Linked DNA regions of Homo sapiens: region 2 is linked to region 1. Evidence: fine-mapped expression QTL. Tissue or cell type: esophagus mucosa. Region 1 holds a variant in brackets; the other region holds the start of a gene. All regions are shown on one strand. Distances are between the middles of the regions.

Region 1 (8,106 bases):
GCTTTAGCATGAGTGACTCCATTTTGGTTTGGTCTGTTGGGCTTAGTGCAGGAACTCAGTCCAAAGTGATGGCCTCCTGTAAATGTTAACATTGTGAAACCTTTCTAATTCAGTCAGAGACTGGGTGCTCTTCCTCCAATATTTCCTCTGCCATTTGCATCTTCCTCAGGGGCAGATTAAACTTCACAGCTCATTACTTGCACAAGCCCCTTCTAAGGCTGACATCTAATTTTGTATTCATTATTTTATATTCTTTTCTTTAAAGAGTCCTTCCCCTCCCTGCAACTGTATAAGATTTAAGTTCCACTAAATCTAGATCCATCCCTCATCTACCTACAAATTAGTAATTATCATATTTTTCTGTGATTATATATTCACATGTTGTGGGTCCCCAGACCTAGCACAATGTCTGCTATGTGATAATTGCTTAATAAATATGCAGTACAAAGTTTCAGAATTTTCATCTATCAGTCATTCTTTGTCATTGGGCATTTATTATTAGTTGCAGTTAGAATTCAAAGTTGACAGGTCTACCAAAAAGAAATTGATTTGGTTTTCCAAGGAAGGGAGTTTCTCAGGATGTTTTGGCTGTTTTCAGTGCTTCCTCTCTCAATCCCAGTTTTGTTTCCTTTGCTCATGGCATGTGAATTGGCCCTTGCTTCACTGGGATAAGCAGATTGTCTCAAAGACACTTAACAATTGTCAGGGATCTTAGAGTCAGTGCCTACTTGGGGTCAACCCTCACAATATATCTTTTTAAAAAACCAAAAACCTTTTAATCAAAACAGTACATCTGGCTCTTGGTATCCACGGATCCAACCAACCACAGATCAAAAATATTCTGGAAAAAACTAATAAAAAATAACAATACAACAACAAAAAATAATGCAAATCAAAATACAATATAACGACTCTATAGCATTTAGATTGATTTGTATTAGGTCTTATAAGTAATCAAGAGATGATTTAAAGTGTATGGGGAGGATGTGTGCTGGTTACTTGTAAACATTACATCATTTTATGTAAGAGACTTGAGCATCCACGGATTTTGCTACTGGGGCAGGGGAGGTTTCTGGAACCAATCCCCCCATACCAAGGGAGGACTGTGTATGTTTACTGCAGAAAAATAGAGAAAGCAAGGGCAGAGAAGAGAATAAATACCATAAATCCACCACCCATAGGATAATTTGATGTCTGTCCTTTACATACATACTTACATACTTTTTGTTTTCTGACCAATGGTTATACACTTAAGTTTTTAAAAAGGAATCATAGTATACATAGAATATTGTGAACATCTTTCTGTATGCAATGCATTAAAATAATGAAACCATTTTTAAAAGCTTTTGACACATTTATATATTTATAATATGACAGAAAGTACTAAGTATCTTGTTCACACAGGACTAATATTATGTATATCTAAGTAATATAAATATGTAATGTAGGTAATGTAAATGTGTAATGTATCACGTAGATGTAATATATGTACATAGATGCAATTATAAGCAACCTTTTATTTATAATGAGGTGACGCCACTTCTTTACACAACTCTAGAGGGCGCCATTCGTAGATTCTGGTGCCACAGCGGCCCAATAAAAGTTGAGGAAAAAAGATCGAGATGGGCTCGTTGGCTCTTTCAGTTAGATAATTTTACAAGTAAGCCTTTTGAAGTTTAGAAAGGTTCAGTTAGACCTGGTTATTAAAAACGTTTAATTTCCTCCAGTGAAAAACGGGCGGGAAGCAACGAACTTTGAAAACAACTAAGGAAGAAAACGCGTCTGCTTACAGTTTGCCAACTACGGGACACCGTGGAAATCCCATCTCGGGATTGGCGCGGTGCCTGCTGGGAGTTGTAGTGCGCCCCTCGCCTTCCGGGCGGCGGTCTGAGGCCCGCGAGACTCCGTTTCCCGGCAGGCCTCGCGTCAAGACGGCCGGCGGGACGGGAGCTGCGGCGCTGGCTACGAGAGTGACCCAGTCAGCGTTGGTTCCCGTCTTGGCCATGGCCTCGTTCGTGACAGAAGTTTTGGCACACTCCGGGAGGCTGGAAAAGGAGGATCTGGGGACCCGGATCAGCCGCCTGACCCGGCGGGTGGAGGAGATCAAGGTGAGAGCGGGGCAGCTGTCTGCTGACTGGAAGGGGACTCCGGGTCCTTGTGTGAAGGGACTGGAGAGAGGAGTCAGGGGCTAAGGGCAGACAGAGTGGGGACCAGCAGAGTGGGGCCTGTTGGGGAGATCTAGTTGTGGGGGCTGAATGAGGAGTGGAGGGGCCCAGAATGTGTGGATTGAGGAGGGATCTTGGAGGGGAGCCCACACAGGGGTTGGGAACTGAGGAGGCGAGGAGACCTGGGACTGTGGGGACGAACAGGCGGTGGCTGGAGAGCACTGGAGAGTGGAGTTATGTTGGGGAGGGGTGTGCCGCGGGAAGAGGGAGACTGAAGAGACCAGCAGAGCGGGAGGAGCAACTGGAAGCTCCGAGGAAGCTAGGGAGCGAGCGCAGGAGAGGAATAGAAAAGACAGGATCCCCCTTCCCCTTCTTCCATCGATGAGTGTTTATTTCCTCCACCCACTCCTTGATTTGTTGATGAATAAAATAGCCTGGAGGATTGCACCTTTCTCCTCCCCGACATTAAAAAAAAAACAAACCCAAACCCTCAGTATGTTTTTATTTTTATGTATCTATCTATCTTTTGAGATGGAGTCTTGCTCTGTCGCCCAGGCTGGAGTGATCTCGGCTCACCGCGACCTCTGCCTCCCGGGTTCAAGCGATTCTCCTGCCTCAGCCTCCCGAGTAGCTGAGATTACAGGCGCGTGCCACCACGCCTGGCTAATTTTTTTTTTTTTTTTTTTGTATTTTTAGTACAGACGGAGTTTCACCATGTTGGCCAGACTGGTCTCGAACTCTTGACCTCAGGTGATCCACCCGCCTCGGCCTCCCAAAGTGCTGGGATTACAGGTGTAAGCCACCGTCTCCGGCCTCTTAATGTGGTTTTAAAACTTCATCTACAAGCACATGAAGCTGTGCTGAGTGTCATTGGTACCTACGTAAACGTTGCTGCCTTGAGATTGATACAAAAACTGGAAGCACGTAGCCACACACAGTTTTGCTTTGTACTGATATTGTTACCTTGCCAGTATTTGTCCACATCTTCAGTTGCTTTCATTTAAAATTTTGTGTATCTGAGTCAAGTAGGGTTTCGAGGGAGCAAGTTTGCCACACACCATAAGGGCACAGGTATAACCCTTCCTAACAGCTCTTGATTTTACAAAAGTAGTTTCCTGAATTTTAAGTAGTCATATCCCTGACATCTCTTCTTTAATATGGCTTTCGGATTTTTCACCACTGTTTAATGTGATGGAAAGAGGACAGGTTTTTAAGTTACTCTAGCATGGCAAGCGACCCTAGCTCCTGCGTGTTCTGGACCCAACATGCCTTTCTTTGCTTTCACTAGTTTCCTTTACCAACTTGAATCTTCAGCCAATTGAGAATTACTTTCTCTGCTCTCCCTCCCTTTTTTAATCCCATATTTTGCTTATGTTGCCATTTTTCCATCTTTACCTGTAGTATTTTTCAAACCCATTTTTCAAGTTCCATTTCAAATGTCTCCTGCATAAAAAAAAATCTTTATCTTCCCTCAGGGAGAGGGGATCTCTTTCTCATTTGTGCTCCTGGAAGGCTTTGTAACTTTGTTGCTGTATTACATTTCAGTCCTGTATTCTTGTTGCTCAAGTATATAGTATCTTTACTACGTAGGAATTTGAGGGCAAGCATAATTTGTTCTTTTTTTTAATTCATGTATTTATTCCTCTGTCAAAATAATAATTTAACAAAATTAGCCAGGCGTGGTGGTGTGCGCCTGTAATCCCCAGCTACTCTGGAGGCTGAGGCAGGAGGATCGTTTGAACCTGGGAGGTTGAGGTTGCAGTGAGCCGAGATTGTGCCACTGCGTTCCAGCCCGAGGGACGGAGTGAGACTCCATCTCAAAAAGAAAAACAAAATCAATTTAAAGCCATCACATTTTTAAAAGATAAAGGAGAATTTGTGGCACAGCTGCATTAACAAAACAAGACACCAGTCTAAAGTGCAACACTAAACAGGTGTTCTCTCTTCCCATGGTGGAATACATACACACAATTACACGTAAGATTTCACTGAAGATATGGAATGAGGCAAATAACCCTTTGAAATGAACCACCCAAGGAATAGAGACAGGCTAAAAATAATTTCTTTTAAGATTTTACTGTAAGATGGACCCCCTGCCCCCACTCCAGCCCAGGTAAGTACTAACTCAAACCCCTCATTTTATGTGCATGGCCTTGGCTTCTGTCTTCTTTCCTCAGCCACATCCAAATCCAGAAAGGCTTCTGTACCCTATGCTCAAAACGCAACCTCAGCCAGGTGCGGTGGCTCACGCCTGTAATCCCAGCACTTTGGGAGGCCAAGGTGGGTAGATAACCTGAGGTCAGGAGCTCCAGATCAGCCTGGCCAACATGGTGAAACTTCTTCTCTACTAAAAATACACAAATTAGCCGGGTGTGGTGGTGGGCGCCTGTAATCCCAGCTACTCTGGAGGCTGAGGCAGAAGAATCGCTTGAACCCGGGAAGTGGAAATTGCAGTGAGGTGAGATTGCTCCACCACTGCAGTCCAG[C/A]CTGGGCGACGGAGTGAGACTCTGTCTCAAAAAAAAAAAAAAAAAAAATAGCATCCTCAAGTCCCCGACTTGAGGAAGTACAGACTGACGTTAATGAGCCTGTGTGCAACGTGCAACCTTCATCTAGAACCTGCAGGGAAATCAGGAGCACAAACACAGAGTGCAGCATCATTTCTTTTTTTTTTTTTTTCTTTTTTGAGGTAGAGTCTCTCTCGCCCTGTCGCCCAGGCTGGAATGCAGTGGCGAGTTATTGGCTCACTGCAATCTCTGCCTTCTAGGTTCAAGTGATTCTCCTGCCTCAGCCTCCCAAGTAGCTGGGACTACAGGCGCCCACCACCGCGACCGGCTAATTTATTTGTATTTTAGTAGAGATGGGTTTTCACCATGTTGGCCAGGCTATTCTTGAACTCCTGACCTCAAGTGATCCACCTGCCTTGGCTTCCCAAAGTGCTGGGATTACAGGTGTGAGCCACAATGCCGGGATGCATCATTTCTTTAAACAATGGCTTTAACTGTTGAATGAGCTCTGACAAGCCATATGCATCTCATAAGCAAGCCAAAATACTGTCTTCATATCTGTTTTTCTTGCAAACATGTATCATCCAAGTAAAAAAAAAAAAAAAAAAATTAGGCTGGGCACTATGGCTCACACCTATAATCCCAGCAGTTTTGGAGGCCGAGGTGGGCGGATCACCTGAGGTCAGGAGTTCGAGACCAGCCTGGCCAACATGGTGAAACCCTGTCTCTACTAAAAATACAAAAATTAGCTGGGCGTGGTGGCGCATGCCTGTAGTCCCAGCTACTTGGGAGGCTGAGGCAGGAGAATCGCTTGTACCCGGGAGGTGGAGGTTGCAGTGAGCCAAGATTCCACCACCGCATTCCAGCCTGGATGACAGAGCGAGACTCCATCTCAAAAAAAAAAAAAAAAAAAAAAAGAAATTTAACAGAAACAATGAAAAAGAAAATTCAAAAGGTTTATGCCAAAAAGCAAACCAGTCCTCATTTGTTTTGGTGCTAACTCATTTGTTTTGGGGCTGTGAAGCCATGTAGAGGGTGATCAGGCAGTATCCCACCCACAGTCAGCACCATGGTGGTCCAGTATAGCATTTGGTCAGGGAAGCCTCATTTCAGGTGGATGGGCACATCATCAGCTTTCTGGAGAAACTTCTGCAGCTCTGGAACTTTGTTTTTCCTAGCAAAATTATATGCAGTGGAATCAGAAGTCAGCTTAGTTGGTATGGCAAATATGATAGGTGGTGCTTCTGTGGAAACCACAGGCATTAATCCTTATGGGCTATAGGCCTCTGAAGTCCATGCTCCCACCAACTCAAACGTGAAGCCACTAAATTTGTAGTACATGATGCCTGGAGTCCGGCTTCCCGCATCTACTGCCTGCACGACCACCCCAGAGAAGGACCCATAATTTATCCTTGTATCTTTCAAGGTATTAAATAATTCAATACACAGTATTCAGTACTTTGTTTAAGTTACTTTGTATTAAAGGAGATGATGAAAGTCAAATCAATGTAGGGTTTTAAGATCAGGCCATAAAATATTATAGGCAAGAAAATAGAAATTGATTGAGATATACAGATTATGGATTTAATTTATCCATTTATTTTCTATTAGATTTATGATTAAAATTGGTGACCACAGTCTGATATAGTTCAATATGAGAACTTCTGGCTCCACCTTTTCTCTTTTCCAGCATTTGTACAAGTCTTGGGCGCCGTTGGGGTTTGGTGATCATTGTCTTCCTTTTTTTTTTTTAATTTTTTAATCGACCAGTAATAGTTGTATATACTCTTGGAGTACATAGTGATGTTTGATATTGTTGTCTTCTTTCACCCTAATAATGTTATGAGACCCCTCATGGTGGGAGAAATGTGTTTTTGAAATAAACTCATTGGCTTGGAGGGAAAGTGAATGGGTATAGGCAATTGGCAAGAAGGTTCTAACATGGAAAATGCCTTGTGGAAGATGAATATATTCTTATTAGAGTTCTCTACTCATTTCACTGTCTTTTAATATAATTCTGTTTTATATTTTAGGGTGAGGTGTGCAATATGATTAGCAAGAAGTACAGTGAATTCCTGCCTAGCATGCAGAGCGCGCAGGGCCTGATTACCCAGGTGGATAAGCTATCTGAAGACATTGACCTGCTGAAATCCAGGATAGAGAGTGAGGTAAGGATAATTTGTTATATTGGGTAGGTTTGTAGGGAGGTGGTTCAGCTTCCTGATTGCTAAGACAGCTTAATTGTGTACAACTTTTTAAACCCTCACTTTTCTGATTGGTAAATGGAGATTGAACTAAATGATTGTAGGGTGACTTCAATTCTGAAATAGAAGTATTTCCAAAAGTGCAATTTAAATAACTTATTTTTTATGGAAGAAAATTTGACCAGGCCCGGTGCATCATGCCTGTAATCCCAGCACTTTGTGGTGGCCAAAGTGAGTGGATCAATCTGTTACTTTGCACCTCTGGCACAGTTCAAAAAATATCCCCAGAGTGCATTTGTAATTAGTTGATTGATTAGGGAGTCAATATCAATAGTGTAACATTAGACTGTGCTATTAGAAATGAAGTGTCTGGAACAAGACAGTAATTGGCTCTCTGTACCTTTTACTGGCCACACCCTGGCTGTTGAAATTTATTTAGTTTTGGTTGTTGTTATTTTGAAAGATGGCTGGTCTGGATGAGAAGGTTTAGCCCTGAACACTGTACCATTTGAAGAACTGTGAAATAAACTGAGGATGTTTAGCCTTGGGAAGAAACATTTTCAATATTTGAAGCTCTGTCATATGGGAGAAATATTCAAATTTATGGTTCATAATAGAGAATTTTTTCAATAGGTGTATGTTAGAAGTTTATTCAGGCATTTGGTATATTTATTCTGCACTTAAAAGGTGCCAGGCAGTGTAATAGTTGCTGAATAAGAATGTTTTTTATTTCAAGGTGTGAATCTCGTGCCTGGTAATAGTGTGCCACAGCAATAAATAGGAGTAATACAGTTAGAGAGAGGAGATATAGCTAAGGATGGCTTCCTATAGGAAATGGCATCCAAACCAAGACGGGAAGTGATAGGCAACAGGGGAAGGAAGAGTGTTGTAAGTAGCCATAAGTTTTAGGTAGGCAGAGGCATGGAGGTAATAGAGAGATGTCACTGTTGGGGAGCTACAAGTATTCCATAAGACAAATGTGGGATTTTGGTGGGAAGGGACATAAGATGAAATTAGAAAGGTAAGCAAGGGCCTTGCATATCAGGTTAGTAGTAACATGATAAAGAGTGTGGACGTTATCTTGATGGCCCTGTGGAACCCATAGAGGTTTTTAAGCAAGAGAGTGACATCAGATTTGAATTTCCGGAATCCTATTCTGCTTGCAGTTTGAAGAAAGAACTTGAGGGAAATGAGTCCAGGATATGAGAAGGCAGTTAAAATGTTCAGAGGCAG
Region 2 (8,106 bases), 100 kb before region 1:
GAACCTGGGTGGCAGAGGTTGCAGTGAGCCAAGATTGCACCACTGCACTCCAGCCTGGGTAACAGAGCGAGAGCAAGACTCCGCCTCAAAAAAAAAAAAAAAGAAAGAAAGAAAAGAAAAACCCATTTTCTGGGGAGAAATTCACGCCAGCTGTAGAAATTTGCGTAAGTAGCAAGGATCCTAATGTTAATCACCAAGACCACGGGAAAAATGTCTCCAGGCCATGTCAGAGACCTTCACAACAGCCCCTCCCATCGCAAGTCCGGAGGCCCAGGAGGAAAAAGTGGTTTTGTGGGCCAGGCCCAGAGTCCCCATGCAGTGTGCAGCCTAGGGACTTGGTGCCCTGTGTCCCAGATGCTCCAGACATAGCTGAAAGGGACCAATGCACACCTCGGGCTGTGGCTTCAAAGGATGGAAGCCCCAAGACTTGGCAGCTTCCAAGTTGAATCTGCAGGTGCACAGAAGTCAAGAATTTAGGTTTGGGAACCTCTGTCTAGATTTCAGAAGATGTATGGAAACACCTGGATGCCCAGGCAAAAGTTGGCCGCTGGGGTGGGGCCCTCATGGAGAACCTCTACTAGGGCAGCATGGAAGGGAAATGTGGGGTCGGAGCCCCCACACAGAGTCCCTAATGGGGCACTGCCTAGTGGAGCTGTGAGAAGAGGGTCACTGTCCTCCAGAGCCCAGAATGGTGGGTCCACCGACAGCTTGCACTGTGTGCCCGGAAAAGCTGCAGACACTCAATGCCAGCCCATGAAAGCAGCCAAGAGGGAGACTGTACCCTGCAAAGCCACAGGGGCAGAGCTGCCCAAGACCATGGGAACCCACCTTTTGCATCAGTGTGACCTGGATGTGAGAGCTGGAGTCAAAGGAGATCATTTTAGAGCTTTACAATTTGACGGCCTCGCTGGATTTTGGACTTCCTTGGGCCTTGTAACCCCTTTGTTTTGGCCAATTTCTCCCATTGGGAACTGCTGTATTTACCCAATACCTGTACCCCCATTGTATCTAGGAAATAACTAGCTTGCTTTTAATTTTACAGGTTCATAGGCAGAAAGGACTTGCCTTGTCTCAGATGAGACTTTGGACTGCGGACTTTTGGGTTAATGCTGAAATGAGTTAAGACTTTGAGAGGCTGTTGGGAAGGCATGATTGCTTTTGAAATGTGAGGACCTGAGATTTTGAGGGGCCAGAGGTGGAATGATATGGTTTGGCCGTGCCCTCACCCAAATCTCAACTTGAATTTTATCTCCCAGAATTCCCACGTGTTTGTGGGTGGTACGCATGGGGAGGTAATTGAATCATGAGGGCCGGTCTTCCCGTGCTATTTTTGTGATTGTGAATAAGTCTCATGAGATCCAACGGGTTTATCAGAGGTTTCCACTTTTGCTTCTTCCTCATTTTCTCTTGCTGCTGCCATGTAAGAAGAGCCTTTCACCTCCCGCCATGATTCTGAGGCCTCCCCAGCCATGTGGAACTGTGAGTCCAATTAAACCTCTTTCTTCTGTAAATTGCCCAGTCTTGGATATGTCTTCATCAGCAGCGTGAAAACGGACTAATACTTTTTTTTTTTTTTTGGTATTTCCTGTATAGATGGAGTTTTGCCACATTGCCCAGGGTAGTCTCCAACTCCTGAGCTCATGTGATCTGCCCACCTCAGCCTCCTAAACTGCTGGGATTACAGGCATGAACCTGTGATTGGCCTAGGTCTGCTGGTCTTTTAAGAAAATTTTAATGAAGGTTGGGCACGGTGGCTCATGCCTGTAATCCCAGCACTTTGGGAGGCAGAGGCAGGTGGATCACAAGGTTAAGAGTTGGAGACCAGCCTGGCCAACATGGTGAAACCCTGTCTCTACTAAAAATTAGCCAGGCGTGGTGGTGCATGCCTTAGTCCCAGGGGAGTCTGAGGCGCCTGTAGTCCCTCGGGAGTCTGAGGCAGGAGAGCTGCTTGAACCCGGGAGGCAGAGGTTTCAGGGAGCTGAGATCACACCACTGCACTCCAGCCTGGGCGACAGAACGATACCCCGTCTCAAAAAAAAAAAAAAAAAAAGAAAATTTTAATGAATAAGGGTAATATGGTTTGGCTCTGGGTCCCCACCCAAATCTCATGTCGAATTGTATTCCCACTTGCCAGGGGAGGGACCTGGTGGGACATGATTAGATTATGGGGTGGATTTCCCCCATGCATTTCTCATGATAGTGAGTTCTTATGAGATCTTTGTGTGTGTGTGTGTGCGGGGGGTCGGGGGGGACACTTCTTTTGTTCTATCTCTCCTACTCTGCCATGGTGAGACATGCCTGCTTCCCCTTTGCCTTCCACCACGATTGTACGTTTCCTGAGGCCTCCCAGTCTTGCTTCCTGTTATGCCCCTGAGTCAAACCTCTTTTCTTCATAACTTACCCAGGCTCAGGTAATTCTTTATGGCAGTGTGAGAACAGACTAATACAAAGGATTATAGGTTTTGACAGCACTTACACACAATAAACATGCAATTTCCTAAAATGAATGTGTAAAGACAAATAAGGGTTGCTCCAGAGACATGGTAAATAAAGCATTCTAGCAGTGTAGAAATAGGCAATGCTGTAAATAAGCTAGACTCAGAAATCAATGTGGGCTGGGCGTGGTGACTCATGTCTGTAATCCCCAAATTTTGGGAGGCCAAGGCAGGAGGATTGCTTGAGACCAGAAGTTTGAGACCATCCTGGGCAACACAGTGAGATCCCATCTCCATAAAAAAGACACAAAAATTAGTTGGGCATGGCACATGCATGAAGTCCCTGCTGCTTCAGAGGCTGAGGCAGTTGGACTGCTTGAGCCCAGGAATTCAAGGCTGCAGTGAGCCATGATCTCACTACTGTATTTCAGTCTGGGTGACAGAGTGAGACCCTGTCTCAAAAAAAAAAAAAAAAAAAAAGAAAACCAGCATCAACCTGAAATCAACCTGTTCTACAGTGACACCCAGGTTGAGGCCATAAACACAGTCACTCATGAGGAAAGGAAAAATGGCAGAGCCACATACATAAAATGTCCTACTACTCGCAGACACAAACACAGTCAGCCTGTTGAATGTGGAAGATTCCAAGTTAGTATCACCGCAGCCATGCCAATCTGCCAGTTAATCTGCCAGGGGAAGCGGATCCCTGTATCTCCAGGTGGTGGAAGTTGCAGGAGTCCTAGTTCAGGCCTCAGAGAGTAATCTGGCCTCTCCTGGGAGCTGCACCTGACCTGTACCTGTTTCCTTTTGTCAAAAACTGCGCCCGCATGCAGACTAGGGAGGCCTGCAGGTGAAACATAACAATCCCAGCGACAACAATGCCAGGAGTATAGGAAAGGCCACCGTCCATGTTAAATTCACACTTAAAAGTGTAGCTTGAGAGTCAGACCAGACCAGGGCAAGGGTGTAGGTGCTACTCTTAAAAGACGCGCTTCCACACTCAGCCTCTACGCAGATTTGGGACACCCAGCAGCCTGTCAAGTGGGTTTGCCATCATAACACATTTGTATCTTAAATGTGAAACATGGTTCAGTAATCACAATTCCCACACAGTTGTTGAAAATACAATTCAGGCCTGGCGCGGTGGCTCACGCCTATAATCCCAGCATTATGGAAGGCCGAGACGGGCGGATCACCTGAGGTCAGGAATTCGAGGCCAGCCTGGGCAACATGGTGAAACCCTGGGTGTGGTACAGCGTGCCTGTAATCCCAGCTACTCAGGAGAATCGCTTGAACCCAGGAGGCGGAAGTTGCAGTGAGCCGAGACCGTGCGGCTGCACTCCAGCTTGAGGGGACAGAGTGAGACTCCGTCTCAAAAAAAAAGAAAAAAAAAAAAACAAACCGAAACCAACCAAACAAAAAACAATTCAATAGGAGCACCTGGTCTTTTAACATGAAATCGTAAATATCTGGCTCAAACGTAACAAAGTAACACAAAATTTTAGTTTGAACTTCTGAAAATCGAAAATGGAAAAACTGCAATTTTCCTTATCATGCCCAGGTTAAGAGCATCAGGGTTAAGGGCACCAAGCGGGACACCCATGAACGGAGGCTTTGGTCCGTTTGGTTAGCTTTAGACAAGCGACTGCATTCATCCTCCTTCTCTCCTTAAAGATGGTGAACACTTCTTCATGTCATTGGAGTTGGAAATGGCTACAAAGCCTGATGGGAAATCCTTTATTCCACGGTCATTCGGCAGTTTCCCACGGCGGGGGAACAGTTTTAACTCGCCCGTGGGGAGGGTGGAGCCGGAGGTCAGTCCTACAAATGAGGTTTTGAGGGCAGAGAGCGGAGAAGACTCAGGAACGCGGCTCCCAGGATTCGCAAACCCAGTTCCCGGACACTGGCAGCGCGGCCCGCAGCCTCCACCGGCTGTGAAGCTGACCAACAGCGACAGGCGGGGCCGGGATCACGTGACCGACGTCTGGTCAGCCGGGCGTGCGCGGGAGCACGCAGAACTGTTCGGCCCCGGGCCGCGCGCCTTGCGTGCGCGCGCATGCCGGGGGCGGGGCATGTGGGCCAAGCCTCCGGCGCGCGCTGCGGGCGGGGGCGGGACGGAGCGGGGTGGAGGGCGGGGGCGGGGCCTAGTCCTGAGAGGCTGGGCCGGCGGCGGCTGCGGCGGGAGACCGGTGACCCGCGGCTGGGCGCCTCGGCCATGACTGCGGAGCTGCAGCAGGACGACGCGGCCGGCGCGGCAGACGGCCACGGCTCGGTGGGCTCCGCGGCGGCGAGCGGGAGCTGGGGGCGGGCTCCAGGCCCTGAGGGGAGCGTGCGGGGCCTGCAGGGCTGCGGGTTGCGGGCTGCGGAGGGCGCCCCGGCCGGGCGGGACAGGGGGTGCGCCCGCCAGCGTGGGTGAGAAGGCCAAGGGCTCTGCGGGGCTCGGGCCGCGGAGATTGAGGACTGCATCTTCGCGTCCGTGGGCGAGCTGAAGTTGTAGGGGGATTTCCAGATTTTGGAAAACCAAATATAAAGGGCTGGACGTGGGGTTCTCCGCCGCAGGGATCAGTAAGGTGAGCCCTCCTGGGCCCCGTCCGGGGTGAGAAACTTCCGAAAGCGGCAGCGTTGGTTGGTTTTGTTTTGCTTTGACTTTTAAATCAGTTTTATGGCGGCGTTTTTAAAAGGTTAAAGCAGACCGAAGTTATCTCACTTAAAGTCCGGAATTAATCACCGTCTTCTATAAGACCAGGGGTCCCAGTTACCACCACTTCCCTCCCTCCCAACCCGGCTTTAAAAACAAAACAGCGCAGCCTCCCCAATTATTGCCTTCATCGCTCTAGATTTTTAAGGAGGGGGAGGAGCTGCGTGATGAATAGAAAGTCTACTGATGATGATCTCCTGTTCCCAATGTCTAAGAAGATTGAAATCAATATAAGGACTTCTGATCTAAGAATCTGGTGAGAGTGAAAGAACCCTGGTTTGAGAGAAAAGCTAATGTCTGTATGAAGAAACTTGGGAAGAGGGCAATTTGAGCATGTCTTCTAGTGTTACTTCGGAATGTTATAACTTAACACCACCTCCTCACCCCTCAAGTACTGCACTTTTTCAAGAGAAAACGGGAAATCTGTGCCAGTTGTTCAAATACGAGTTTGGAGATGAGAAACTATATTTGTCGTACAAAGCTGGCAGACAGATACCCTCAGGTGAGAATCCTTTTATACCTTTTTACTCTTTTGTCTGGAAGGCCAGTAGTATTTAGCATGGAGACACTTTTTTTTTTTTTTTTTTTTTTTTTTCGACAGAGTCTCCCTCTGTTGCCTAGGCTGGAGTGCTGTGGCGCGATGTCGGCTCACTGCATCCTCCGCCTCACCCTCCTGAGTAGCTGGTATTACAGGTGCTTGCCACCGGCCCGGCTAATTTTTGTATTTTTAGTAGAGTCGGGGTTTCACCATATTGGTCAGGCTGGTCTCAAACTCCCGACTTAAGGTGATTCGCCCGCCTCGGCCTTCCAGAGTGCTGGGATTACAGGCGTGAGCCACCGCGCCCAGTCTGGACGCACTTTTTTTTTTTTTTTTTTTCCAGACGGAGTCTCACTTTGTCGCCCAGGCTGGGGTGCAGTGGCGCGATCTCGGCTCACTGCAACTTCCGTCTCCCGGGTTCAAGCGATTCTCCTGCCTCAGCCTCCCGAGTAGCTGGGACTACAGGCGCGTGCCACCACGCCCAGCTAATTTTTGTATTTTTAGTAGAGATGGGATTTCACTGTGTTGGCCAGGATGGTCTCGGTCTCTTGACCTCATGATCCGCCCGCCTCGGCCTCCCAAAGTGCTGGGATTACAGGCGTGAACCAGGGCGCCCAGCCTGGATGCGCTTTTTAAAACTCATGTAGAAAAAGATACTTCCAGGTCCTGGGCTCCGAAACGAAAGTATCATGCACTGACTTCTAATGGAAATATTGTTAGATGTTCACAAGTGCCTATTGAAATGTGTCAAGATTTTTCTCTGGCTTCAGAGGTCAGTTCTATTTGTTTTTAGCACAGTGATTTAAAAACATGGGAAAATTTTAGTTTGGAGACTATCATATTGATTTAGAGAAGAGACTATTTTAAGGGAGAGAGAAGTCATATTTAAATTTGTCGTGGCTCAGTCATTTAAGACCATGTGCCTATTAATCAGTGGCATCTTCATTTACCTCTGCCGCAGTTTGAGTAGTGACCCTATTTCAGCATTCTCCGTTTGAGACTGTGTGTGAGCTACTTGATGAGCATTTGTATGTAAGTCATAGCTATTTTGGGAAGGCTTGGAACTCCAGTGGCTGTGGCTGGCTGGAGTACTCCGATTCCTGGCCACCTGCAGAGTGATGACATTTACTGTTCTTCCCAGTGATTTGCCCTATACGGAAAGCTGATAAGCTTGGAATGCTTGATAATGTTTGCCCCTTTTATTTTTGCTAATAAAATGCTTCAAGTTACCAGGATAGGTTGAAGGAACTTACAGGAAAAGTACCTTTTGATCTTACAGGAAAGATTTTAATAACTTCTTCCTCATCTTGGTAAGTTTCATGTTAGAATGGATTCTTTTATTTTGAACTCTCTGAGGCATTCTACCTTTCCCTTAAAGGATATTTCATTGTTCTAGTTGAGGAGAGCTATCCTTCCCTGACACTCAGAAGCTATTTAAAGCCTAGACTGCTTCCCTTCCCTTATTGGTCAGTTGTACACAGGACAGACAAAACCCTTTATGGCCTCCCAAGAATTTTAGTGCGAGAAATATGTAGTACTCTTGAAATATGCTATCAGTATGGACTCGAATCTGAGAGTAGACACTTTATGATTTCACTAAATCCTCTAGACTGCAAACTGGTATTCGAATATCTAAAGAGGTTACATAGTGACAGATTCCTGTATTTTAATCAATTCTTGACTTCGATAGCAGCAAAATTTACTGTTATTACAGGAGAAACAACTTGAAGTCAGTTTGGTTCTTATAAACCTGTCATTCTTGGCAGCTGTACTGAGGGTTCACATCACACATTCTTTATGTCAGCTGAAGCCTTATAAAAACCTGCCAGTTTCAGTGAAAATTTAATGCCCTTTTTGCTTTCTCTTGATTTATTGACCTTTCGTTTCCTTTTGTCTCATTAACTGATTTTTAAAACATCAGTAAGTCAGTGATTGGTTCCACAACTCTCATGCCCCTCTGCCCCCAAATGCAAACAGTATTTTTTTTTTTTTTTGAGACGGAGTCTCGCTCTGTTGCCCAGGCTGAAGTGCAGTGGCGCGATCTCTGCTCACTGCAAGCTCCGCCCCCCGGGTTCATGCCATTCTCCAGCCTCAGCCTCCTGAGTAGCTGGGACTACAGGTGCCCACCACCACGCCCGGCTGATGTTTCTGTATTTTTAGTAGAGACGGGGTTTCACAGTGTTCGCCAGGATGGTCTCGATCTCCTGACCTCATGATCCGCCCGCCTCGGTCTGCAAACAGTATTTTTAAGACTTACTGGCAAATAGCATCTTACCAGGCGAGATCTCTCCATGTGTTCTGTTTCATCAAAGAAATTAAATCAATAGTAAAATGAAGCAAGTACTTAACAAGGAAAATAATGCTGGTAATAGTAATAGCTAATGCTAATTGAGCATGCACTATGTGCCAGACTCGGTGCTCAGAACTTAACATAG

Alleles and levels. Positions count from the first base shown, and alleles are read on the strand shown. Sizes are in standard deviations (SD) of each study's normalised expression.
As copies of C replace A in region 1, the expression in esophagus mucosa of the gene that starts at base 4,580 in region 2 goes down (small effect, 0.15 SD a copy in GTEx).

The links. PIP is the estimated chance that this variant, and not a neighbour inherited with it, causes the effect.
Region 2: USP28 starts here. The variant in region 1 is fine-mapped to the expression of USP28 in esophagus mucosa (GTEx, PIP above 0.99).

What each region holds. Positions count from the first base shown.
Region 1 is chr11:113,767,564-113,775,669 of GRCh38, reverse strand. It overlaps ZW10 (zw10 kinetochore protein), which reads left to right and starts at 1,978. Exons shown (of 16, transcript NM_004724.4): 1 at 1,978-2,108; 2 at 6,703-6,837. The coding sequence starts at 2,004. It also overlaps the pseudogene LOC100288385. RefSeq lists enhancers at 1,788-1,847, 1,978-2,247. The variant C/A (reference allele first, on the strand shown) is at 4,652.
Region 2 is chr11:113,872,046-113,880,151 of GRCh38, reverse strand. It overlaps USP28 (ubiquitin specific peptidase 28), which reads left to right and starts at 4,580. Exons shown (of 26, transcript NM_001346252.4): 1 at 4,580-4,707. The coding sequence starts at 4,651. RefSeq lists enhancers at 3,360-4,021, 4,072-4,321, 4,311-4,605, 6,192-6,692 and silencers at 4,342-4,501, 4,522-4,881.